4 linked regions of the Homo sapiens genome follow. The protein of the gene in region 2 purifies or fractionates together with the protein of the main gene of each other region. This does not show direct contact. Each region holds a gene or a part of one and is shown on either strand. Other genes may lie near its edges.

What was found.
Region 1: the proteins of ZMAT4 (region 2) and HEPHL1 purify together in Homo sapiens (affinity purification with mass spectrometry; 2 studies listed by BioGRID and IntAct, with this or other methods). This does not show direct contact.
Region 3: the proteins of ZMAT4 (region 2) and VSIG8 purify together in Homo sapiens (affinity purification with mass spectrometry; 2 studies listed by BioGRID and IntAct, with this or other methods). This does not show direct contact.
Region 4: the proteins of ZMAT4 (region 2) and TRIM29 purify together in Homo sapiens (affinity purification with mass spectrometry; 2 studies listed by BioGRID and IntAct, with this or other methods). This does not show direct contact.

The regions. Positions count from the first base shown.
Region 1 is NC_000011.10:94,023,994-94,031,437, reverse strand, and holds part of HEPHL1 (ferroxidase HEPHL1 precursor), read right to left. Parts: intron 1-7,444. UniProt on the Homo sapiens protein: Is a copper-binding glycoprotein with ferroxidase activity. It oxidizes Fe(2+) to Fe(3+) without releasing radical oxygen species. May be involved in the regulation of intracellular iron content.
Region 2 is NC_000008.11:40,670,450-40,677,893, forward strand, and holds part of ZMAT4 (zinc finger matrin-type protein 4), read right to left. Parts: intron 4,483-7,444; coding exon 4,255-4,482; intron 1-4,254.
Region 3 is NC_000001.11:159,853,419-159,859,704, forward strand, and holds the end of VSIG8 (V-set and immunoglobulin domain-containing protein 8 precursor), read right to left. Parts: intron 5,495-6,286; coding exon 5,316-5,494; intron 4,874-5,315; coding exon 4,672-4,873; intron 4,549-4,671; coding exon 4,327-4,548; intron 3,226-4,326; coding exon 3,106-3,225; intron 2,743-3,105; exon of another isoform or gene 2,664-2,742; coding exon 2,465-2,663; exon of another isoform or gene 1,609-2,464; coding exon 1,335-1,608; 3' UTR 898-1,334; downstream 1-897.
Region 4 is NC_000011.10:120,110,556-120,114,327, forward strand, and holds the end of TRIM29 (tripartite motif-containing protein 29), read right to left. Parts: intron 1,922-3,772; coding exon 1,859-1,921; 3' UTR 731-1,858; downstream 1-730.

The sequences.
Region 1 (7,444 bases), on a different chromosome or scaffold from region 2:
CGTGATCACCAAGATACTAATAAAAAAAAAGCAAATTGCAGAGCCGTATGTAAAGTATTATCCCATTTGTGTGTGTGTGTGTGTGTGTGTGTGTGTGTGTGTGTGTAACAATGCACATTTACCCATATGCAAAGAATACATCTGGAAAGTGACCAGGGAAACAAAGTGTAGCCTCCAGACTATGAGACTGAAGCCACAGGTGGGAGGGAGGACGGAGGAGAAGTTTACTTTCACTCATCCTCTTTTATACTGTTGTAGGGGGAGGGGCGGTTACTCTGTACCTACAAATTCAATACTAAAAACAAGCTCACGTTTTATTGAAAAAAAAAGAAGACCCATGCTGTTTGGCCTCCAAGGGGCCAAAATTCTCTTGCATGCCTTCTATTTCTAAAAACAAAGCTGCCACAACAAAGGGTGTTGTTGGATTGAGTTCTGCTCTGCAAGGGGATTGGCCTCTGGAGCAGAGAGCATGGCATCTGCTCACTATCCCTGCTCAACCTCTGGCTTGCCAACTCTCCTCTCAGGCATTGAGGCTGAAGTCTTGGGACTGTGTATGAACATTCTGGGTCTCTTGTATCCAAGCATCCACTAAGCCTGCATGTGTCTACCCAGGAGCAAGAGTTAGCCCTCTCCCACTCTATAAGGCAAAGACTTACATTTCCCTGTGCAAGAGAATGGGATATAAAAGTTGGGATGCCTGACCCCTGGACCTTTATAATAGAGGCTGTTACATTTCTCAGACTTGCTTGCAACTTGGAATAGTCATGTGACATAATTCTAGCCAATCAGATGTAAGCAGAAGTCACTCAATGATACTTCTCCAGGTGTAGCTGGAAGACACCATTTTTCTCCTCTTCTCTTCCCTTTATTCATGCCTGAAATGTAGACATGATGACTGGAGCTCCAGCAGCCATCTTGAGATAACGAGGAAGAGGGTCACACCCTAGGAATGGTCAAGTGAGAGCCAAAAGGAACCTGGGACCCAGATGATTGCCAACCTCTGGCTCTCTTTTATGTAAGCAATAATAATAAATCTTTAATCGATTTAAACCACTTCTGTTTTTCAGGATTCTGTTAAAGAGTAGCTGAATACAACTCCTGATTGAACAGGCTGTGCAAAAGGAGAAGGAAGAGGAAGAGGCAGAGGAAGAACTGAGTCATCCCCAAGCTTGCTAATAAGCCTCAGAGTTGCCCAGTTTTATAGCTGACAATGGGTCACCCAGTAAGGTGGCACAGCAAGGATTAGATTCAGAATCCCTGGTATGCTCTCTGGGTTCAGCCTGATGGGTAAAAACTATAATACAAAACTATTATTCATAGGACCTTATCATTCCAACAGGCCCTATAGGGAAGGATGGACATTGGACTCTACTTCTCTACCCTGTTCTCCCACTGCACACATGAAGACACAAAAGTATACACACATGCAGATGCATGTGGAGCACACATGCTCACATCTTCACATATGTACTCCTGCTTTTAATCTGCTAAGAGGTCCTGACCCCACCTCTGCCCAAGACCTTTCTCCATCACCTCCACAAGACCAGGTCTTACCATGAGTTGTCTGGCAAAGGCACTAAATAAGAGGCAAAATAAGTATCAGGAGGGGCAGTGAAGTGTTTGCTGAGTCCCTGTAGGGACTGGAGCACTTATGGTATGCTTCATATTTTGGCACTGAGTTATACATTGACTGTTTTTCATATTCCTGGACACATATCAGTCTTATCACCTATACAGCCAATAGTCACCCCAAGGGGGGATTGGGTTTTCTAAAGCAGTGGTTCCCAAATGTCCACCCATGTACCACTTGCATCAGAATCATTTGGAACATTTGCCAAATTTTTATTCTCAGGCCCCACTTCAGGGCAATGGAATCAGACTTTCTACTGGCAAGACCATGGTATCTGTATTTTTTCCTAAGATCACCAAATGATTCCTGTAGTAGAGCTTTTTAGGGCTTGCGTATTCTAATTTTTCTTTCCTCCTAACCAAAGAAGACCACAGTGATTCTGCTTTTGCAAGTTAGATGGGCCATAGTGTTCTGGCAAATTGGCTGTGAGTGGAAATGCCACGTGTCACTTCTGGGTGGGGGCATTTAATTATTATTGCAAGACCCTCTCTTCCTCTGCTGCAGGAGGAGCCTCCTGCTCAGACAGTGAAGAGAACCCATAGCTTCCTCCTTGTCCCAGGACTTCTTCCCCTGCACTGACTCCACATCAAGAGTAGGACAGGGTTGACCCATGAAGGTGCCCTAGGAAGATACTTCACACAAAACAAAAACTATAGTAACTATTTGATAAAAATTTGTTGAGGCTGGGTGTGGTGGCTCATGCCTAATCCCAGCATTTTGGGAGGCCAAGGTGGGAGGATCACTTGAGGCTAGGAGTTTAAGACTAGCCTGGGCAATACAGTGAGATCCTATACTTTTTTAACTAATAGGAAAAAAAGCTTGAAAGTAAAAAAAGAAGTGGGAAGGGATAGAAATAAGAGAAAGTAGTTTGTTTTAGTGTCTACACAGCAAACCACCCATTGAGAACATATTATGCATTTGTAATAGTAGAACAGAAACTCCAGCTCCTTTGAGTTCTATAAAATGCAAATTTGCCCAAGAAACAAAGTAAGGAAGTAACTTCAAGGGAGCCATCCCCATGAAGCAACCTCCAATTTAAATGGAGTATATTTGTTAGAATGTTGCATTGGTGAGCCATCTGTTGTTTATCACGTAGCCATGGCGAGGGGCTGAGCAATCACTATTCCTCAAGAACATTTTCAATCTGCATTCTAACATCTTGACTCAAGCTAAGGAGGTGTCTACTTCCTGCTGCAAAAGAATCCAGTGGGGCCAGGAAGGTTAACATTAACAACTGCCTTAAAGACAAGATGGGGACTTGGAACATTACATTGCCAGTGCCTGGGGCCAATCCTGTGGATGGAGATATCTTCCAAAAGCAGAGGAGATTAATCATTATCAGAACAAACCTGCCCTTGGGAATCCCCTACACAGTACAGAGTTGGACTTCCAGGTTAGATTCTCAGGAGTTCGTAGCTTGCAGGGATATAAACCACCCAGCAATCCCATGACCTCTGCATCTTTTAGAGGGATGTTTTCTGATAGCTTCCTTGGAGCAATTGCTGATCATCTACTATGTCTGGGACATAAAACTAGAAACTGGGGCCAAGATGTATTAATCTCAGTCCCTGCATGCAAGAGTTTTACCATCTAGTTGGGAAGCAAAACATGCATTTGACAGTAAACACAGTTTTACAATGTTAACTGCCAACTCTACTGTCCAGAGCCCACATGTCTGTGTAGAGGGCAGGGAAATATAAGATGAAGATAAACTGCAAAATAATGTTAGCAGAGAGTGTGGTCAGATCCAACATGTGAGATCATAAGAGTCACAATAAGGACAAGAAATATTGTTTGAGCTTGAGAAGGAACGTTCTTCACCAAGGAGAAAAAAAGATGAGATTGAGACAAATGTCACTTGGAAAAAGGAAGGGTGGAGACGGAGATTGCACATTCAGTTTGGTGAAGCTGCACCCTCCCTATTAGATTAATAATTTTTAATACCATCTGGATGTGCTTCTATATACATTCTTTCACTCTGGGTCCCTGGCACCACCTATGTCTTGGGTCCTTCCTTTTCACTCTTCATTTCCACAGAAGCCCTTCATATACAAGGTGTGTTCAAAACAAATGGCATGATGAGGGGGAATGAAAATGAGCTTGAATCCCAACTCTCTCACTTGCTGGTTGTGAAATGGGGAAGAGACTTAACCTCTCTGAACCAGTTTCCTCTGCTGTAAAGCAGTGACCATGGTAGAGCTATCATAAGGATTCAATGAGAAGAGGTGTAGAGCCACACACACAGCAACTGGGAGAGTGGTGCTGAATCAATGACAGTTATGATTATTTCTGGTAAAGCGTAAAGCTTTGTTAGAAAAGAGGAAAATGTGACCAGCCAAGGTCTTTCCCCCAGGGCTCCTGCTCTCCAAAGAACCCCGTGAGACGGCAGAGCTACCACGAGAGCTGATCAAGTGCTCTCAAGTGGCAGGCACTGTGTCTGAGTATGTGCAGATCCTAAGTCCCAAAGATAACTCCGCAGTCCTCATCCACAGAAACTTATTGGAAAAATGGGTCTTTGCAGATGTGATTAAGTTAAGGATCTTGAGATGGGGAGATCATCCTGGATTAGCTGGGTGGGCCCTAAACACCATCAAAAGCATCCTTATAAGTAAGAGGCAAAGATAGGCTAGACACACAGAGAGAAGACGACGATATGAAAATGGAGGCAGAGATCAGAGTGATGCAGCCACAGCCAAGGAATGCTGGCAGATACCAGAACCTGGAAGAGTCAAGGAATGGCCCCTCCCTTAGAACCTCCAGAGGCATTGTGGCCCTGACAACACATGCAGTTCAGACATCTGGCCTCCAAAACTGGGGGAGAATAAATTGCTGTTGTTTGAAGCCACCTAGTTTGTAACTTGTTACAGCAGCCACAGAAAACTGATACACCCTCAAAGCAAGTACTGTCACTATCCCTATTTTACTGATGAGAAAACTGAGGCAAAGAGAGATTGAATTACTTGCCCATAAAGTGGGGCAAGAATTCTAAATGTGACAGTTGATGCCAGAGCCCCATACTTTACCAGCAAACTGGACTGCCTTGGCATCTCCCTAAGACCAAGGCTGGGCTACACTTGGCTGGAGAAATCCTCCCGATGCCACCTGATCTCCCTCCCAGAGACAGAAGATTGGTCACCCCACTTCATGGTGTGCTAACCTTTTAAAGCAATGCCTGGAGCATAGTAAATACTCAGTGACACTTAGCTAACTTATTATACTGTCAATGAGTTATCTTTCAGATCCTGCTAACCAGGCCTTGGGGGTCCATCATATGGAGGTGGGAAAAGCAAGATGGGGACTAAGAGGATGCCTGTGAATCATGGAAAACAGGAGAGAACTGAGGTAGGGGAGGGGAGCAGGGACTGCCAGCTGCCTTGCAATATTCATGCTCCCCTTCTTTCTTAGTGTCAGAGGTAAATTCTATCTTTATTCAGGCAGAAAAGTACACAGCTGAAACGTTATATTTTTTCAAGTCCTCTTTGTGGCTATGAGTATCCAATGAGATTTAAGTAAAATTGGTTGGGTAGGGTTTCAATGAGAACCCTTTGAAAGGCTGATGCAGCAAAAATTGTTCTGCTTCTACCTTTTGCCTTTCTCTCTTTCTTCCTGGAATGTAGACACGATGGCTGGAGATCCAACAGCAATCTTGTGACCATGAATGTGCTTGAGGAGGGAAACCACAAAGGGTTTAAAGCACATAGGCTAAGGATGGTGGATCAGAAATACAGAAAGCCCCTGATATCTTGTTATACCATCTATCCCACCAGCCTTGGACTGCCCACTTCTGGATTCTTCTACAAATGAATACAAAATCCTAATTTGTTAAAGACATTATACTCCAGTCTCTAGTGGCAGCCAGAAACAATCACTTACTGATATAGGGTAGAACAGCAGTTCCCAGAGATTCATATGGCATCAGTCCAAACAAAATATTTTTGGTGCTGATAAGACAGAAGTTGAGATTTGAAAGTTACCATTTGTTTAGACCATGCACTTACCAGATGATATTCTTTTCTTTATTTCAAAGCTCACAAAAACCTCTGTCTCCTCCCTGCTTCCCCTCAGTTGGTCCTTCTTTCAGATAGATGTGTGAGTTCTCTCTCACACCTATCCTAGGGCCTGCTTCTTAGAATACTCAAAGCCCCTTGCCATACACTGGGCTGATGCAGTGATGTGGCTGGGTCAACTAACAGACTCTACAAAAATGGGGTTTGAGCAGTGGCTAGCCTCACTTATGTTCAAGCGCAGTTCCACCCATGAGTTAGCGTCCATGAAAACCCTGCATTTCACTGGGAAGAAAAAGGCTGAATGTGTGTTGATGGCCTAATGAGGTCTATGGTGAGAACTGTGGCTTTAAATAAGATGACCCCACCCTACTTCCATTAAGGATCAGGCTTTACCACCAAACACACACCTTAATTAAGGACTTTATGAGCCTGAGCAGGACTGGTATAAATAGATCAAAATACTGACACCATCCCCAGGCAACTCAAAGGAGCCCAGTGTCCCCATTTACTCCAAGGAGGAGGAGAAGTATATTTATCTGGAGAAAGTATTTCTAAATAGAATCTAACTCCTAAATCCTATACTTTCTAGGAAACATTAGTGATTATAGACTCAATTATATTTTTGAACCCTATAATCAAGCATAGGTACCAAGCATAAAAGTTAATTTGCACCATCTGAGGGCTATAGAGTCTCAGCAAAATGATTTCAATTCATTTTCGATCTCGTCCTTGTGCATAAGGATGTGCCTAACTTTGGTTTCCAAATGTTTTCACATTACTGAAACTTTGGCACCCACCATCTTGTTCCCCAGATTTTTGCCCATTCCCCTTATTCAAAGATAAAACAACCAGAACAACTCAGTTGATAAGGTGATTAGCTTTTACTTCAATGATTTTGAATGCCTGCCCTGTACTGGATCCTCCATAGGATATTGTCAATGACAAAGTTCCGTGCAGGGAAGGGGGATTATTGAATATACGCCAAAACTTCTTATCTATCATCAGGGTGTTTTACTGCAGTTGCAGACATGACTAATGTACATCAAGCAATTAGAGGGCAATGCAGAGGGAAGAAAATGCAGTGTCCAAGTTCATGATAAAGACCCCAAGCTCCATGAGTGGTTAGGAAGGAAACAGATCAGTACAAGCCAGGGTCATGGGGGAAAGCTTCATGTATGAAGTGAGGAATTGGAGATAATTCTTAAAGGACAGGGGAAAAAATGGAGAAAGAAAAATAAAGACTACTTCAAAAGTTGTCACATATGCCCACGATCAGTCCCAGGTCTTCTCCAACTCTAATTTCTAGGACTGAACATTTGCAAATCATCTCTCTCCTTTCTTTCACCATTGCAAAAATCTTTCTAGAACTGGCAAGTCAGGAAAGATATTTTTCATTCAGTTTCAAAATTATTTCTAATGCTTTGGCATTACACTTCTCAAGTGACTCTAGGGATTACATTTCAACTCCCTTCTTACACAAATTAAGGAAAGTGATATTCAGAGAGATTATATGACATGTTCAAGATTACACAGCAAGTTGGGCAGAGCAAGCATTAGAAGTTAGGTCTCTGGATTTCTATTTCAGGTTCTTTCCATTCATGGTGGAATTCTGAGCACCTGGCTCTCCTGGTCCTTTAAATATCAGACATTTGCCCAAGTGTGAATATCCAAAACAACAGACTGTCCTCAGAAAGGCAGCCTATTCACCCTCCAGGAGGCTGAGAGAGGGGCATGATTACATCATCCACGATGGCTCCTTCCTGCTCCTGGGGAAATGGCACAACACAGAGTACACACACTGAACTCC
Region 2 (7,444 bases):
CAAGAATATCTTGGTACAGGCAAAGATTTTTTTAGGTAAGACACAAAAAGCAATGATTATAAAAGAATAAAAAAGTTAAGTTAGCCTCCCAAAATTTAAAAATGCCTGCTCATTGAAGGGCTTAAGAAAATTAATAGCCAAGTCACAAACTAGGAGAAAATATTCATAATGCATATATTCAACAAAGAATGTGAATCCATAATACGTGAAAGCCTTCTACCTCATCTCAAATAAAAGGCAAAAAATAAATTTTTAAAAACAGATAAATGACATAAACAGACACTTCACAAAGGAAGATACACAAATGACCAATAAGCACATTTAAAAAGTACTTGACGGCAGGGTGTGGTGGCTCACACCTGTAATCCCAGCACTTTGGGAGGCCAAGGTGGGCAGATCATGAGGTCAAGAGATCAAGACCATCCTGACCAACATGGTGAAACCCCGTCTCTACTAAAAATACGAAAATTAGCTGGGCGTGGTGGCACTGCACCTGTAGTCTCAGCTACTTGGGAGGCTGAGGCAGGAGAATCTCTTGAACCTGGGAGGCAGAGGTTGCAGTGAGCTGAGATCATGCCACTGCACTCCAGCCTGGCAACAGAGCAAGACTCCATCTCAAAAAAAAAAAAAAAAGTACTTGACATCATTAGTCAATATGGAAATATGAATTAAAGGCATCATGAAATACCCTCCTATATGCACTAAAATGGCTAAAATTTAAAAGACTGACATGAGCAGATGTTGGTGAGGCTATGGAATTTTTATATGTTGGCTTTTTGAAGTGCAAAGTAACGCAACTATTTTAGATTTTGGCAGTTTCTTCTATAGTTAAAAATACATGCAACTTATGACCCAGCAATCCTATGCCTATTTACCAAGAGAAGTAAAACATATGTTGACCAAAAAAAAGTCTTGTGCCGTAATGTTCATGAAAGCTTTATCTAAAATAGCACCAAAATAATCCAAAGTTCATCAATGAATAGAGTGGATAGACAAACTGTGGTATTTTTGTGTATAGAATACTACTCAGTAATAAAAAAGGTACTACTTTGCTTTATATGCTATAAATGGATAAATTTCATAAACAATGTGTGATCCACAATAAGCCAGACACACAAGAAATACATATTTTATGATTCCACTTATATGGAGTTTTAGAACAAGCAAAACTAATCTATGATGAAAAAATGAGAAAAGTGGTTCTCTGGAATGGAGGGTTGGAGTTGACATGGGAATTTTCCCATGATGGAAAAGTTACGTATCTTAATAGGGCTGTGGGTTACACAGGTGTTTGCACTGTCAAAACTCATAGAACTGTAACATGTAATATCTCTGCATTTCACTATACATATAATATGCATCATTTTAAAAAATTAAAACAAAATTAGAAATAGTTTCTTATAAAAAATATTAAATCAGAATCCTTCTAGAAATGAAAATGATTGCCATGTTAAGAATGTAAGATTTCAGGTGATTTTGTTTTAGGGCATTCTCTGTTCATTCATTCATTCATTCAGAAACTATTGAGTAACTATTATGTGTCTGCCACTACTCTAGGTGTTTTGAACATATAAATGAGCAAACCAGACATAAATGCCTGCTTTTAAGATGCTAATAATCTATAAAGTAAGTAGAGAGAAAGAAAATACAAAAAAAAGTAAGTAAACAAGACAGTGTTTAAAAATGTGAGAAGTGCTATGAGAGAAAGAGAAAAAGCCTACCATCCTATTATATTGCTATATCGTGCTTCAGCTGCCTGATACCATTTTATTAAAGTCATGGATATGCCTATATTTATGGATTAGCATTTTTGCCTTTATTAATTGATTGATCATACATTAGAAGCATTCCAGGAATAGAGGGGTGTGTGTGTGGCCTGTGTGTGTGTGTTTCAAAGTGCTGGGTTACCATAGTTGCTTTATTCTTAAGCTTTTGCAATATTTAATGCTTGAATAAATATCTATCAGGATATCACCTGGAGCGTGTGGAAAGTTTGGTTTCAAGGACATTGTGCTCAATGCTAATCGCATTCCATGGGCTACTGAGTCACAGTCACATTGAGTTATCGAGTCAAAGCAGCCTTTTTGTCTTCTGTATGAAAGACAAGCTGCTCAAATGTTACAGAATTCAGACACCAAAGTCATTAAGATGTAGTTGTACATAAAAGATACAGCACTGATAATTCAAAATAGACAGGAAGAATGTGCTGTAGGAATAATTTTTCTTCAAGTCATAATAACTGGCACCAAACATAAAGTCCTATTTTTCTCCTTCACTGCCCAGCTGGGAAGGAGTCACTGAGACAACTTGTTATCTGCCAGTAACACAGGCATTGCAGTTAGGCCTTCAGCTATGGAGAGATCCTGCCTATTTTCTTTAACAAGACATAGACTGAAAACATATGAAATCCTCCATCAAAAAGCAGTAGTACCATTGACTCAAAAGCTTCTGCAATGAGCTTATCCAACATACTGAAATAGGAAGCACCAAGTTGCTTTTCTGTAGCTAGAACACATACACATAAATAAAGTGTTATTAATGTTTGCTCTTTTTTTGTTGTTTTTAATCAGGTCTTTTGGAAAAAATCAATCTCGAATCAAGCTCTATATACTTAGCCATGGATCTCCAACTTTAAATCTATGCTGCAGTATAAGATTCTTCCATGATGACTTCTTAGCTGTCTCTAGCTTGTTTCCTGACCTTTGCCCATGCGTATGTGATTCTGCTCACATGGAATGCCTTCTCACCTTCTAAAATGCCACCCACTTTTCTAGTTCCAAATCAAGTATATTCCCTTGGTGAGATCTTCTGCAACCAACATATTAAGAAGTGACCTGTCCCTCCTCTCAACTCATTGTAGCATGACCTTTTATATTACTTATTTTGTCTAGAAATGTTCCAAGTCATTTTCTGTTATAATTATCCCCCTTACAGGTTCACAGCCAGATTACGGTAATTAGAATTGTAGGCTCTGTATGCAGAACCCTGTTTAAACTGAGGTTGCCGTCTCCAAATTGATTTGCAAATGTTGTTATCTATAGCTTGCAGCCATTATGAATGACCTGCCCACAAAAGCTCATCAAACTTACACCAAATCTGAAGTATAGTATCAATAGCACCCCTTGCAGAATTATTTTTATTTTTCTGAGAAAAATGCATTTTCTCAGAAAATATAATATGCAATTTTGCTGTACTTCTATGCTGCCAACATCAAGCTGATCAAAAGTATGTAGGTGATCAAAAATGCTTAAATGGTTGCTGGTGATAAAATATTCTATTTAGTCCCACAAATTGGTTGATGGCTTCCTAAGGAATCCACAGAAGTAATCCTCACGCTATGTTTTCCAAATTCAGCAGCTTCTGTGAAACCTCACAGGAACTTCAAATGATACATGGTTTCTAGCTGTCAAGAAAACCCTGTCTGGGGCAGGGGCATGGTGCGGAGGAGACAGGTGTTGACTACATAGTGCCACACAGCACTGTCTTGCCGTGATTTCCCGGAGATTTTATTGAAGGGGCTTGGGCTTGCTTCAAGTCATTAAATTGAGTCAATTTGTTGCTTTGTTTTGGCTAAATTTATAAAAGCACAAAAGTTTAAGGTAAGATAATACTATTTGGCCTTTTTATCATCTTTTTTTTTTTTTTTTTTTTTTTTAAATTTTTGAGACAGAGTCTCACTCTGTTGCCCAGGCTGGAGTGCAATGGCAAAATCTCGGCTCACTGCAATTTCTGCCTCCTGGGTTCAAGCGATTCTCCTGCCTCAGCCTCCCAAGTAGCTGGGATTATAGGTGCGCACTGCCACACCTGGTTAATTTTTGTATTTTAATACAGACGGGGTTTCACCATATTGGCCAGGCCGGTGTTGAACTCCTGACCTCAGGCAATCTGCCCACCTCAGCCTCCCATTCAGCATCTTTTTTTTCTTTTTTAAACACTGCTACTCTACAAAAGCATTTGGTAAAGAAGGCAGTTAAAGATAAAGCAGAAGGAAAACAATCTGGTTCATGAATGTGCCTTTGGTCTGAAAAGCAGTCAATAAAAATATGAAAATAAACACTTTGAAACAAAGGAGATTATAAAAATTAAACTAAAGCAAGCCTTCTGCTCATTTCCTTTCTTGTCCATTTCTTTTGGGTGAGCCTCACTTTTTCCTTAATAATTAAAGCAAGAAGAAGAATCATTCCGATTTGTGAAAGCCGCATCTTTTCTCTGAAAGCCCAGTTTTGTGGCAGAAGTGAGAAGAGCTGCCCTTACCTCTCAGTTCCCCCATATCCAGGGTTGTCCCCAGTTGTTCTAACAAAGCAACTCTTGCCGCATTCTTTTTGTGTTTCTTGCCATCATAATGTTGCTGGGCCATCAGAGGGTTATTAAACCAGGCTGCACAGAGCCCACAGTATCTGTCTGAATCTCTTCTTTGATAGGGAGATGCGACCACCGGAGCAGTGTCCATCCGTGGGGGCTTAAGTGGGCTCAGGGGTGTTGCTGTGAAAGGAAACAACCAGAGAACCACAGCCACGTTAGTCCAACACTGAGTCCACTCTTCCTCAATACCCGAAGACCAAAAGTCTCCTGTTCACTCTAGAGCTTAAACATCCCCAAGAGTTCATTGACAGCAGGAAAATTAGCCCTGCCAGCTTTCATTTTTGAGTTGGGACACAAATAAAAATTCTTAATGTATTGAGATCAGAGTTTGCATGTCGTTATACCAAAATCTGATAATTCAAGAGACCATCCCTTAGGGGAATAATAAGATTTTTAAAAATAAATTCTCAGTTATTCCCACTGTGGCTCTCAGGAGCTATGGACAGTAGCTCTAAGTATTTGGCTGCCTGGAGTAGCTTTGAAAACACGGTTATTGAAGGCCTTTCCCACTCACTTTTAAAATGCATTCTGCTCTAACATTGGCATTTAGAGAAAAAAAATGTAGTAAAATACAGGGGACAAGCTCAATGAGCCAGGTAAAACTTGAGCAATAACTTAATTTTTCTAGCATCACTAATAATGCAATAAGCCTATTGTAATTGCCTTCAATTATTTTTGTGTGTGTATAACACTAAAAATAAATATTGGATAAAATGCAACTAAATAAATAAATTCTTAGAGGTAAGGGAGTGATCTATCAGTCAAAATAAAGCTAATACTTGAAGTAAACATTGGACAGTCATGACTTAAAAGATTCCGAATGAATGAATTGGACGTTTGTGTGCTATAAATGTAATTAACCAATAAATAAAGGATTTGGCTAAGTGGTAGAAACTGATCTTTTGGTGACATGGGTTGCATTAATTGAGGAAGTCATGCTAATTTTATTGTCAGCTGCTTCAGTTTATTGTAATAGGCTGTTTTCAACCTCTACCTGCTCACGTTGATGCTGAAATAACAATGTTTTTTTAAAAATCAAAAGAAAAATACTATAGATCAGGTGTACTTATCTAAACAGAATAGACATGTATCACTATTTTGAGATTGCATTGTTCCACCTATTAAATTAACACATTTTACTGTGAGCTTAGGATTATTTCTGGTCCAGAAAACAAACAAACAAAAAAGAGCCTAACTTGAAGGAGCTTACTAATGGAAAGTAAAAATAACTTTTCTATGTATTACAACATACAAGTTGCTTCCATCCTTACAAGGACTATGACTTGGCCTTTTATCCCATTTCTCAGATGAGAGATTGATTTCAGAAATGCCAGTGGCTTACTGAAGGTGAGATATCTAGTGATGGGAAAAACAGGACTAAAATGAAATCTGGAATTCCCAAAGCCAATGTTCCCTTCAATACTTTCCCAAGGATCCTTTTCATACTTCTTAATAAGCTAAGGGACTTTTTTTCTAGATCCATCATCTTTCTATTTCATATAGGATTTCATTAAATTTTGGAAAAAATATTCCGATCCAAATATTTTGGAGAAGAAATCAGTATGTAAATTCTCACATGGGCCATTAGTCCTAAAGCAGTATAGCAGCATCCTGTGTGTGTTCTTGGTCTCTGAGATGTAGGATGCAGCTGGCAAAACCACGAGCATTAGGGTTGTCGTTCCAAGGAAAAGCTGAGGTCCGAGACCTCAATAACAAGTTAAGGAACCAATTAACCAACACCCCAAGCTTTCAGGTAACTTTTAGGTGGACTTTTTTTTTGATTAAATAACTTATATAGAAACAAATACTTGTTAAGTGACATTTTAATTCAAGTAATGCCTGTATCATAACAGTATTTCTAAGAAGCTCTTTTTTCTTTATCCAGAGATTTCATTATATCGAGAAGTTTTAGCTAGTTTAGATTAAACTTAATGGTGTTATTTTTACAGGGACTCACAAACAGTACGCCCCTTAAAAGACTCATTGTGGGATTTGGTCATGTTATCACCATGTAGAAATAAAGCTCAAATGTGGGCCATTCCAGCAGCCACCCAGTATCATTCTGCTATGACTTAGAAATAAAAGCTACAAATATGCAGTTGACCTGGATGTGAAAAGATCTCTATCCACTTTTCTGAAGGTAATTGAATCTCACTTTCAAAGCTTCCCAAATCCTTATCAATTTCTGAGGATTTATAATTAGCTATTGTTTTTGATGGCAATGGAAAACATATCAAATGTCTACAATATGAATAAATGTTGACTCTTGAAGCATAATTTATTTTTCTTTAAAGTAAGCCCTATAAAACATTTTAGTCGATTTTATCAACTGATACCTTCTACACCATATCCTGGTAGGAGTGAGGCACAATAGAATATTCATCAAATAAGATAATCTTATCTTGCACATAAGAAAGTAATTTGATGTAGCTTCTCCCTCTGAATAATTCCACTATCTTGTGTATAGTCTGAAAGTTTAAAGGATTTTTTTTTTTTTTTTGCTTCTGTTGTAACTGTCTTCACTCATTTCAACCCAGCTTATATTCCTTTAGTGCCTATAAAAGCAGGCAAAGGCAGTAGCATAAAAACAGCCTTGAATCAAAGACAGAACTCTGGTTGGGTGGGACTCCACTATCAGTGAGCTGTGTGACCTTTGGCAAATTTCTAACGTCCCTGGTTTCCTCAAGGTAAAAATTCAGACACACCATCTCTTTTAAAATTAACATACTTTGCAGCTAACCCATAGGGTGTGGACAGAACAAATTGTGGAAGCTCTGTCCCTTCTACAGCTTTGATTCAATACCAAATATAGAAATTATGTGGGAGGAGAGCAGTTTCCAGGTTTTAATGATAAATCTGTGTGTGTACATGAACCCTAACACTTACATGCTTTGGCAGAGTGTATTATTCCAATAAAATGAATGAAGAATGGGGCAAAGATTATCTTTTGGTTTAAAAACATGCTTTAAAAAACACTTTAGTTGACATGTAGTTAATTTCTATTTTGATTTCATAGTTTGTTTTTATTCTAATTGCAAAAAATATTAACTAAATATTTACTTTACCTGCCCTTTATATAGAT
Region 3 (6,286 bases), on a different chromosome or scaffold from region 2:
AAGTGCTGGTAAATACTAAATAGCTCAATTAATCCCTATCTAGGAGTGGCTGACTACTTCAGGGTGTAAGAACGTGGAGCTGGATCTCAGAAAGGCCTAGATTCTCACCACAGAATATTCCATCATAAGGCAGTAACTGTAAAATATCTAAAAACTTTTTTTTTCTAGCATAAAGTAATGCTGCCACACTCATTCACTTGGTATTTCTCAAACATCTCCTGCAGAATGGGCTCTGCACAAGTTGACCAACTGCAGACAAATGAAAAAAAAAAAAGAACCACAAAAATAATTGTTCTAAAACACCAGCAGCATCTAGGTGAAGGGATTTACCATACTCTCCGAGTTCCATAATATATGCTATATAAATATTATTCCCCCTCCTTCCTGCACTTCACCCAGCACCCTAGAACTGTGGCACTTAGTTTTTTAATATAAGAGGTTGTAGTCTTATTTTCACATGTCCTTGTTTCTGTCTCACCGGATGCCTGTGCCTTCTGTGCTCCAAGGACTGGTTTCCTTTTAGCTTTCAGCAACATACAAAGACTCCCTAGACCTTCAGAGCACATTATTCTCAATAGAAAATCTTGACATGTGAAAACTTTGAATATTTAGAAATGGCAAGTGTATTGCACTTTGTCGGTTCCTCAGTTTATTTTACGGTCGTAGATATTCTGAGCTAATTCTTTTTGTCTTTGTTTTCCTTTTATCTGCACTTTGTATGTTGTTCAGAGGAGTTGCCCTGGATGGCCCCTTCCAGCTCTGACTGCCAGGGATCTAAGCAGGAGGGAGGAGAGGGGGCGTGGTCGAGGCGAGCGACAGAAGCAACCCTCCCCGGCCCTGGGCAGGGTTCGCCACCCCGTGCCCAACCTCCGTGGAACGCGGACAGCCACTTCGGACTCACGTCTCAATGTTTCTTTATTGTGCTAACACTGCTGCCTCAGAGCTCAGACCTCACACACAGAACAATTCGTCCAGACAGACCCCCACCCACCCGGCCCCCGGGGCCCTCTGCTTAGGCTGGGGACACCAGGCCTCCGGCCTCAGCCGCTCTAGGACACTCAGCCTCCTCCTCCCTCCCTCTCCCCCAAGCCTTCGGTCCCGGGGGTGCGGAGAAGGCTCAGGATCGCCTTCCTCCGCCCTCGCCCGCCCCTTCCCACTTTTGGGGAGGAGGCTCTGCCTCCCTACGCATTTCCTTAGGGAAATGCCTTCACCCCCAGCCGCCTGGCAGCCTGGGGCGAGCGAGGTCGTCCCCAGCCCCGACGTGTCCCCAGCTGCAGACAGAGAGCCCCGCGCCCTCCTCCTGGCTGGGGCGCAGCCCGGCCCGGCGCGCGCGCTCACACCAAGAGGCCGTTCTTGCACTGCACCGGCCCCTCGGCGCAGTCAGCCGGCTCCGCGCTCTTGACCTTGACGTAGACCGGGGAGGGGCCCGCTTCGCAGGCGGCGGCGGCGGTGCAGGGCGCCAGGGCCACGTCCTCGGGGCCGCCGCAGGGGGGAGGCGCGTACTTGCGGCGCAGGGAGCGGCTGACGTTCTGCGTCGGGTACCCCAGGAGGTGGGTGACGCGGCTGCCGCGCCCGCTGGCCTTGCACCCGGGCGCCACGGCGTCCTCTCTGTGGAAAACAACAGGCGGGCGGGTGAGCGGGCTGCTCCGCAGCGGGGCGTGGGCACGGCCTGGGCAGAGCCGGGGGCTCTTGGCAACCTCTTGTCTCCCGCGCCTCCCTCCACCTGCCCTCGTCTCTCTCCCTCGGCCTCGACCTACTGTCCTTTGTGACCCTTCCTGGGTCGGCGACCCTGCAGCGGTCCCGGAGCCAGCATCCCCATCCTCCAGACAGGGCTTGTCCACGCGTATCTGGAGAGCCCTGCAGGCAGCCCCCTCCAGGCCCCTGCAATCCCTTTCTGATGTTTCGCAGGCCCAGAAGAAGGTGCTTTTCCTCTTCTTCTTTCCTTAGCTAATCCTGACCTTGCTCGAGCAATCTCTCTCTTTCTCACCTCCTGCCCCTCAGTCTTCTCCATCTTTCCCTCCATCCCCGAGGCATTGCAATCATTAGCACTACTAGACTTGTTCTATTTTTATTTCTAGTTTGCTTCTAATATAAGTTATTAGCACTATTCTTATTATTAGCTCTTCTTAAATAATAATGTCAGAGTTCTTACCGGCGCAGTACAGGGGAAACGTGAAAAAACATAGGCCCTGCCCTCCAGGAGCTTACAGTCTAGACAAGACAGACAGGTGCGTAGGCAGGAGGGAAATGGAAGGCAGGGAGCAGAGGTGAAGACTGGGGTGGCAGGGGGAGGGGAAAGCCATGAGTTGGGTGGCAGGTCGACATGCCGCAGTCCCAGCACTCCGTGGCGATGGCGGGCAGGGTTGGGGTGGGGGGCCCAGCCGGCCGGTGGCAGGCAGGAGTGAGGTGGGCAGGGCGCCGGTTCCCTGCCGCACAGCAGCATGCAGCATGCATCAGGTTTTACCTGATCTCACTAGCCAAGTCGCCGCAGGCCCCTCCGCCGACCCCGCCGCCGTTGCCGTAGCCGAAGGCACCGCGGGCGCCGCCAGCCCCGGAGCCCCCGCAGCAGCAGCAGACGAGCCCCCAGATGCCTACGGCCAGGCAGCCCAGCGCGAGCAGAGAGCCCAGGACGATGCCGATGATCACGCCTATACGCCGGGAGTCTGTGGAGAGAAGTGGAGGCAGGTCAGGCTTTCTCACAGCCTGGCAGGTGCCTGAGGGAACAGCACCAGGAGGTGCCAGGTCAGGGGTTAATGGGAAAGAGGGAGAGGGACCCAGGGGGTCTCTTAGCCCTGGAACACCCAGTGGGGAAGATATGGGGAGATGCAAGTTAACCCCTCGTGTCAGCATGCTTCTCCCAGGGCTTCCAGCTGCTCTGGGCTCTAGAGCTCAGAGTGGAAGCTGTGCTGGGCGAGCTTGACCCAGCTCAATAGGGTCAAGATCGTACCCACTGATCTTGGCCCACTTGTAGGAAAGGGGCTGGGAGCCCCCACTGGCAAATGGATGGCAGTGGAAAGGCAGAAGCAGCTGAGGCTCCAAACCAGAGCCCAGCCTCCTCCAGTTCAACCCTCCCAACCACCCAGCCCTCAAGACTGCTGCACCTACCTGAGACCTTCACCTCCACCACACAAACACTGTAGCCCACGTTGTTGGCCACTGTGCACTGATACAGCCCATCATCTGCTCTGGAGATATCCTTCAACACCAGGTCCCCATTGTTCAGGCCTGAAAGTGAAGTGGAGAGAGGCCTGGTCTCTGAGAGCTCCCACCCCAACCTCAGTCCCTGTGGGGTGGGGGATGGGACACCCACTCTAGAAGAAGGGAAGGCTTATGCATGTGTGTACACCCACACCCACACACACACACACACACTCCACTCTCCAGGTGAGTCACCTTCCCCCTGCTGTGAAAGAGATGCAAGAAAGGACCTCTCTCCCAGCAGCAAGACAGGGACACCATTAATTCACTCTGACCTTAGGGAAATATGTACGCTCTCTGAGCCTTGGTCTCCTCCTTTGTACAGTGAGGACAGGAGAAGCCAGGGGAAGAGGAACTCTAAGGTCCCTCCTAGCTCTATTATTCTTTGTTTGACTGAATATTTTCAGCTTCTCTATGTACTAGGAGCTTTACACACCTCCCCCATTTAATCCTTGCATGCCCATGAAAGGTATATGTTAGTATTCCCTTTCCATATATGAAGAAATTAAGGCACAGGGAGGGTAAGCCACTTGCCTTAAACTTGGAGCCAGTCAGTGTCCCAGCCAGGATTCAAGCCCAGCTCTGTCTGAGACCAGGCTCCCTCCAAATTCGCCATAGTACTTTTGACTGACTCTCCACATTTGCCTTATCATCTGCTCTCAATAGCAGCTGCTGGGCCAGGCACGGTGGCTCACGCCTGTAATCCTAGCGCTTTGGGAGGCCAAGGCGGGCGGATCGCCTGAGGTCAGGAGTTTGAGACCAGCCTGGCTAACATGGTAAAACCCCGTTTCTACTAAAAATACAAAAAATTAGCCAGGTGCGGTGGTGCATGCCTGTAATCCCAGCTACTCGGGAGGCAGAGGCAGGAGAATCGCTTGAACCCGGGAGGCAGAGGTTGCAGTGAGCCGAGATCATGCCATTGCCCTCCAGCTTGGGCAACAAGAGCGAAACTCTGTCTCAAAAAAAAAAAAAAAAATAGCAGCTGCTGGGGCAGGCCCAGAGGGAGGGTCTCCCACAGGGATTCCAGGTTTGATTTGATGGCACTGATAACCCAAGGAAACCCCAACAGGTCCCAGAGTCCCTGATCTTCCACTCACCCCCGACTGCCCTCATCCAGGGCCCTCTCACCTTGGTTTATGGAGCTGTGGAAGGACTCCTGGTAGGACAGCTCTGAGTGGTAGCTGTGCTGGGAGGTGTAAGACCCAGCTCGATAGGGGTAATGGTGCCCACTGATCTTGGCCCACTTGTAGGAGAGGGGCTGGGAGCCCCCACTGGCATAGCACTTCAGCACCACATCGTTGCCATATGTCATGTGGCCCTCTGTCCAGCACATGGGCACTGCAGGTCGTGCTGCAAGGAGGCAGACAATTGTAAGCCAGGGCCCAGCCAAGAGACAGAGCCAGGCTCAAAGTGGCCAAGCTGCCCTTGGCTCTTAAGCCAGGGGGAGAGGAGCTTAGAGGAGTCTGGCCATACCTTGGACAGTGACAATGACCTTCCGGGTGGCCATGGTGGTCTTCTTCACCCGGCACTCATAAGTGGCTGTATCAGATACCTGCAGGTTCATGAGGTTGATGGAGGCATCGTACTGGCTTGGGTCTGAGGCTGCAAAGCGGACCCTCTGCTGCAGATGGGGAAGGCTGCCATGGTTGATCCTCTTGTCCTGGTAACTAAGGAACTGTGAAGAGGAGAGGAAAACAGGTGGTGAAACAGGCAGAGCCAAGAAGGGCCATGTGGATTGGCTGCTTTGGGCAATTCACTGAACTTCTCTGAGACTCTTTTCTCAGCTGAAAAAATGAGAATAATGATGCCTGAGCCACTGACCTCTTACAGAACTGGTGAGATCAGGTGAGATCAAGCACTTGGAAAGATATATGGTCAGACTGGGAACTTTTTGAAGGCAAAGACTACAACTTATCTTCCTTTTAGAATGGGATGGGAGGAGGTAGACTGACTGGCTAGCTTAATTCACAATTGCAGAGCTCTCATCCCCATTGCCTCATTCCCTGAAAGGCCTTGGGGGAGGTTCAAGGTCAGTCTTCTCCCTTTGGGATGTTGGCTGTCCAACAGGTAGACATCATGAAGCCTAGAGGAAGGAGACCCCTGTGCCCAGCACTCACCACGTTCTCTCGGTGGTGGGCGGGGTCTGAGTTGACCTGCATCCACTCGATGTCCAGCCCATTGGGACCATAGTCCTCAGGGTCCAGGACGTAGGGGCAGCCCAGCCTCACATTATCACCTTCTGCCAGGTACAGGACCTCCTGTCCATCCCCGTTGATCCGCACAGCAGACAGCAGTGCTAGGGGGAGGGCAGAGAAGATGGGGTGGTAGGAGCAGAAGCAGGGCTTCAGGAGGAGTCAGTGTCAGCCCTTCCCTTCATATTCTCTGTCCACGGCACCCAGAGGTCAGCAGTGCTTTCATAAAAAGGAGGGCTGCTCGTAGTGGGTGTGTATGTGTGTGTGCATGAATTGTCACAGGCATATAACAGCTATACATATAGCTGTTATATATGTAGCTGTTATGTATGCTTGTATGTATATATGATTATGTGTATGCATGTATGAATATGTACACGTATGTACATTGTATGCTTATGAGTATTTGTGGCTGCTTATGTGTACTGTGAGGATATTCATGTACATGACCACGTAGCGTGTCTGCTTATATATTTATATGATAGTGTGGATGTGTTTGTGTGTGTGAAGGCATGTGGTACACACAGAGTTGTTAAATGCTCTGATAGAAGAGCCTGGCTGATTAAATGTCACCTATGTGGGCTCTGTCTGGGCTGAGTGAAGTCCTCCTGTCCAGAGGCAGCGGGGTGGTTACAATGGCTTCTGGGACTCCTCTCCAGCCTGAGAAGCCAAAGACTAAGTGTGTCTATGTGTGTCTGTGTATGACAGTGTGAGTCTGTGGCTGTATGCCTCTGTGTGGTTTTGTATAGTGATGTGTGACCATGTGAGCTATGTAAGTGCTTAAAAGTGACAGTGTGTGCTTGTGCATGACAGTGGACAGCTGTGACCAGGAGCCTGGCTGTGTTCGTGTGTGATAGTGAGTGATGGTGTGTGCCTGGGACTATGGCCACAGGTAT
Region 4 (3,772 bases), on a different chromosome or scaffold from region 2:
TGGGGAGCAGAGTGAGGAAGAACAGTGAGAACAGAGGGGCCCGGGTGTCCCTGCCACACCAGGAAAAAGAATGTGGTTGTTTGACACCCTCTTCCCTCTCTACCATCATGCCTCCTCCTGGCTTGCTCACCTCTTCCAGGAAGACTTCCCTGACTCTCCTTCCAGGCTTCTCTGAGTTTCCAGGGACTGGAAGGCCTTTTCCCTTTCCTCCGTCCCCCAAGCCCAGGATGATGCTGTCTTCAGGAGCCTGACCCTCCTGCCAGCCTCAAAGGGGAGCTCTCCTTCCCAGAAGGCCCTCTGTGCACTGAGAAGGCCCTCAGGTCTGAAGCCTCCAGTGGACTTCCACTCCAGCCTGCGTCTGAGCACCAGAGTGCTTGGCTCCCAGCCACTTCTGGGCCCTTCTCCCCCTGGGAACTCTAGGGTGGGCCGGCCAGAAGGTCTGAGCATGGCAGAAGGTATTGAGCATATCCCCAGGCCCACACCCCACTGTCATTCTCCCTGTGTTCATTGTTAGCCAAGGCGTGCCTCCCTGAGGCCCAGGTTCCTGCACTGCACCCCCTGTGTCCCAGACAGGGTGAGGGAGGTCAAGGGAGTTTCAAAGGAGCCACGTTTCTGAGAGGAGAGCAGGAAGATGACCGTGCCTTCATCAGAGGGAAAAAGTGCATTCAGAAGAACTGCAGCCTGTTCCTCTGGGGACCCTCAGGGAAATGGTCATTCAATACAAGAGAAGTGACAGACCAATGGTTTATTCCAAAGGGGAAAGCCCAAGCTGGATGTCTCCCTCCCCAACCCCTGCAAGCTGGCCCATCCTTCCAGAGCCCCCATAGGCCTGGGGCTGTTGAGACGGGAGATGTCCCCACTGTGCTGCTCCTGGTTTTGTCTCCTCTCCAATCCTTGAGCACCCTGATATGCAACATGGGGGGTAATCAGAAGGAGGAGGCAGCCTCTGATGGGGCAACGGCTGAGGGTGGGGGCAGTGTGTAAGGCACCTTTTGCGGTCAGCCCAGCCACACTCCATCGCCAGAGAGAATGCCAAAGTGTAGACTGAATGAAATTCTGTAGGCAAATGGTAAATGGTAGCTGGGCCAGTAGCTATTTGCATGGGTGGATTATATCATGTTAAGGGAATTCTTTATCTCAGCAGAGGGAACAGAGGAATATCTTGGCTAAGGTCATCCTGCCAGTCAGGAGAAGCCACCCTCCAGGGACCACAGACTCAAAGTGGCTGTGGTGGAGACCCACCGCCTGGGTAGGGTGATGTCAAGACACTGAGAGGTTTCCATCTGCAGTGGCCAAGGGCTGCAGGTTCTGCCATGCTGGGCATTGATAGGTAGGACGAGAGAGAGCACGTAGGGCCAGTCCTCTGGGAAGCAGGAGGTGGGCCATGTGAATGGGAGATGGGTGGCTGTGCTGTCCAGGCATCTGCTGACAACATTGGGGGATAGGGCCTTGGAGAGAAACGTCTATAGGCCTGGAGACAGCAGGGCGTGGGCGGGAGAGGCAGGCTGATACCATGCGGGTACTCACTGCTAGCCCCCAGATCCAGCCCGAGAGGAGGAGGCTGGCGGGTTAGGGCAGGCCCCAACCTATCTCACCCCTGTGATGGGTTGGCCTCTGAGCACAGGAATGATGGTGACCATCTGAGGTCACAAGGCAGGAAAGGAGTCTGAATGGAGTGTGGCCAGTGGGGAAGTCGGAGAGGCCGGAACTGCCCCCAAGAGGCTGGCAGAGGGCTGCAGAGGGCAGGTGCAGGACCAGGCTCCCTCCCACCCAGACAAGCACAGTAGCTTAGAAGGCAAGAGCAGCAGGGTCAGGAGGAAGAGCAGGGGTGTGGCGCCTCGTTCCTTCCGCCAGGAGCTCATGGGGCTTCGTTGGACCCAATCCCGTTGCCTTTGTTGACGTAGAATGGCCGGTAGTGAGACTGTGGGGGAAACAAGAGTGGTCAGCGAGGCCAGACGACAGATGAGCCTGCTAGCTAGACCCACCCTACCCTAACCTGCCTCAGGAGGCAGCAGTGATCCAAGACCCGACAATTCTAGGGGCCTTTTTGGCCTGATCTGCAAGATTTACCTACCCTGTGATCAGGGGCTGGTCCCTAATGTCAGGATCTCCAGATTGGAATCCTAATTGGAGTCCATTCCCATAGTTAGTGGGTGAGCTTGAACCTCAGCCCCCGCATTACACTGGTCGAAATTTCTCTCCACAGCTCAAGGAGGTTCCTCCAGCGCCACCACAGCTACTATTTATATAGCACTTTCTACTCCACAGAACTTCACAGCACTGTGTCGAGGGCTGTATGTGGATGCACTCATTTAATTTTTACAACCACCCAATTAAATAGATTACTATTATCATATTCAATTTATAGTTGAGCAAACCAAGGCACAGAGAGGCTAGGCAACTTGCCCAAGGTCACTCAGCTGGTAAGCAAGGAGCCAGAATCCAAGCCCCAGCAGGCTGCCTCCAAAACCCACACCCCCAGCTGCCAGTTCTCGGCATCACTTCTCTTATGGTGAGGGCTTCCAGGATTTTCTTTGCCTCTCTCTGCATAAATTTCCCTTACAGAAAGGGTGCAGAGAGGGTAAAGAACTGCCCCAGTCCAACACGGTCCCAGGCTCCCCACAGCCCTTTGCCTCTCTCGTCCTGTTCCTCTTCCCCCAGCCATTGGTACAGGGAGCATCTCTGGAGAGAGAGCCCAGTGACAGCTCTCCCAGCCTTCTCCATGTATTGTATCTCCCAGTAATTTCATGAAATCAGCATGCCCCACCCTGCCCAGATAACTTCATCAGGGCCCTGAGGAGGCAGCCCTCCAGGATGGAGTGGAAGAGCACAGCTTAGCTGCTGCTCACCCACGCAAGCACCATCAGCCCCCGGGGGTCTCAGGAAGAGGATTTGTCCCTGAGCTGGGTCAGAGACTGAGCCCACTCCCATGCCCTGCAGATCCCAATACAGGAGACATCATTTGCCCCTCACACACACACCTCAAGGGTACACTGCCTTTGGCCCTGTCTCTCAGGGAACTGACACCTCCTGGTCAGCTCCTTGCCTTTGTGTGGTCCACAGCAGGACTTGAGGGATGCTCAGACCTTGCTTAAACCACCTATTAAACAAAGGAAGAAACTGAGACCCAGGGAGGGGTAAGAACAGCTACTTACTGGCAAAGCAGAGCCTGGACCAGGTCTCCTGACCCCCAGGGGCCAGCCTGGACCCCAAGCAATTCATAGGGCAAAGTGAACAGATTTGGAAATGGCTGAAGCCTTTCTTTGAGGAAGATTGGGTCAATAATATGGGTTGCAGGTCAATGAATGGCATTGTCTGGTTAAAAGCCTGGAGTGGTAGGTGGGCATCAGGGCAAAATGCTACCTTCACCCTCCCATCCCCTCCCTGGCTTGAGGTCACAGCACATACAGCAGGTGGAAGAGCTGCAAAATCATCCTAATTATGGATGGGAAAACTGAGGCACAAAGGAATCATTTTTCCTCATGCAAAGTCACACAGCAAGTCAATGAGACAGCTGGGGCCAGCCCCCAGGGAAATTGATTCCCAGCTCAGCTTCTCTGCAGCCCAGCGCCTGTCTCCACTCTCCCAGTGCTGGGTGCCTGCTGGACACCAAAACCTTGCTCTGCCAGGGGCCTCAAAGTGCTGATGAGCCTTCTCTTCAGGGCCCCAGGCTCTGAGAGGGTGGAAAAGTATGTAGTAGGGAGGGGAAGGACTGAGTCTAGAACAGAAACCTTCTTTTTTCTCCCCATATCTGCTTTCTGCAGTCCTGCTG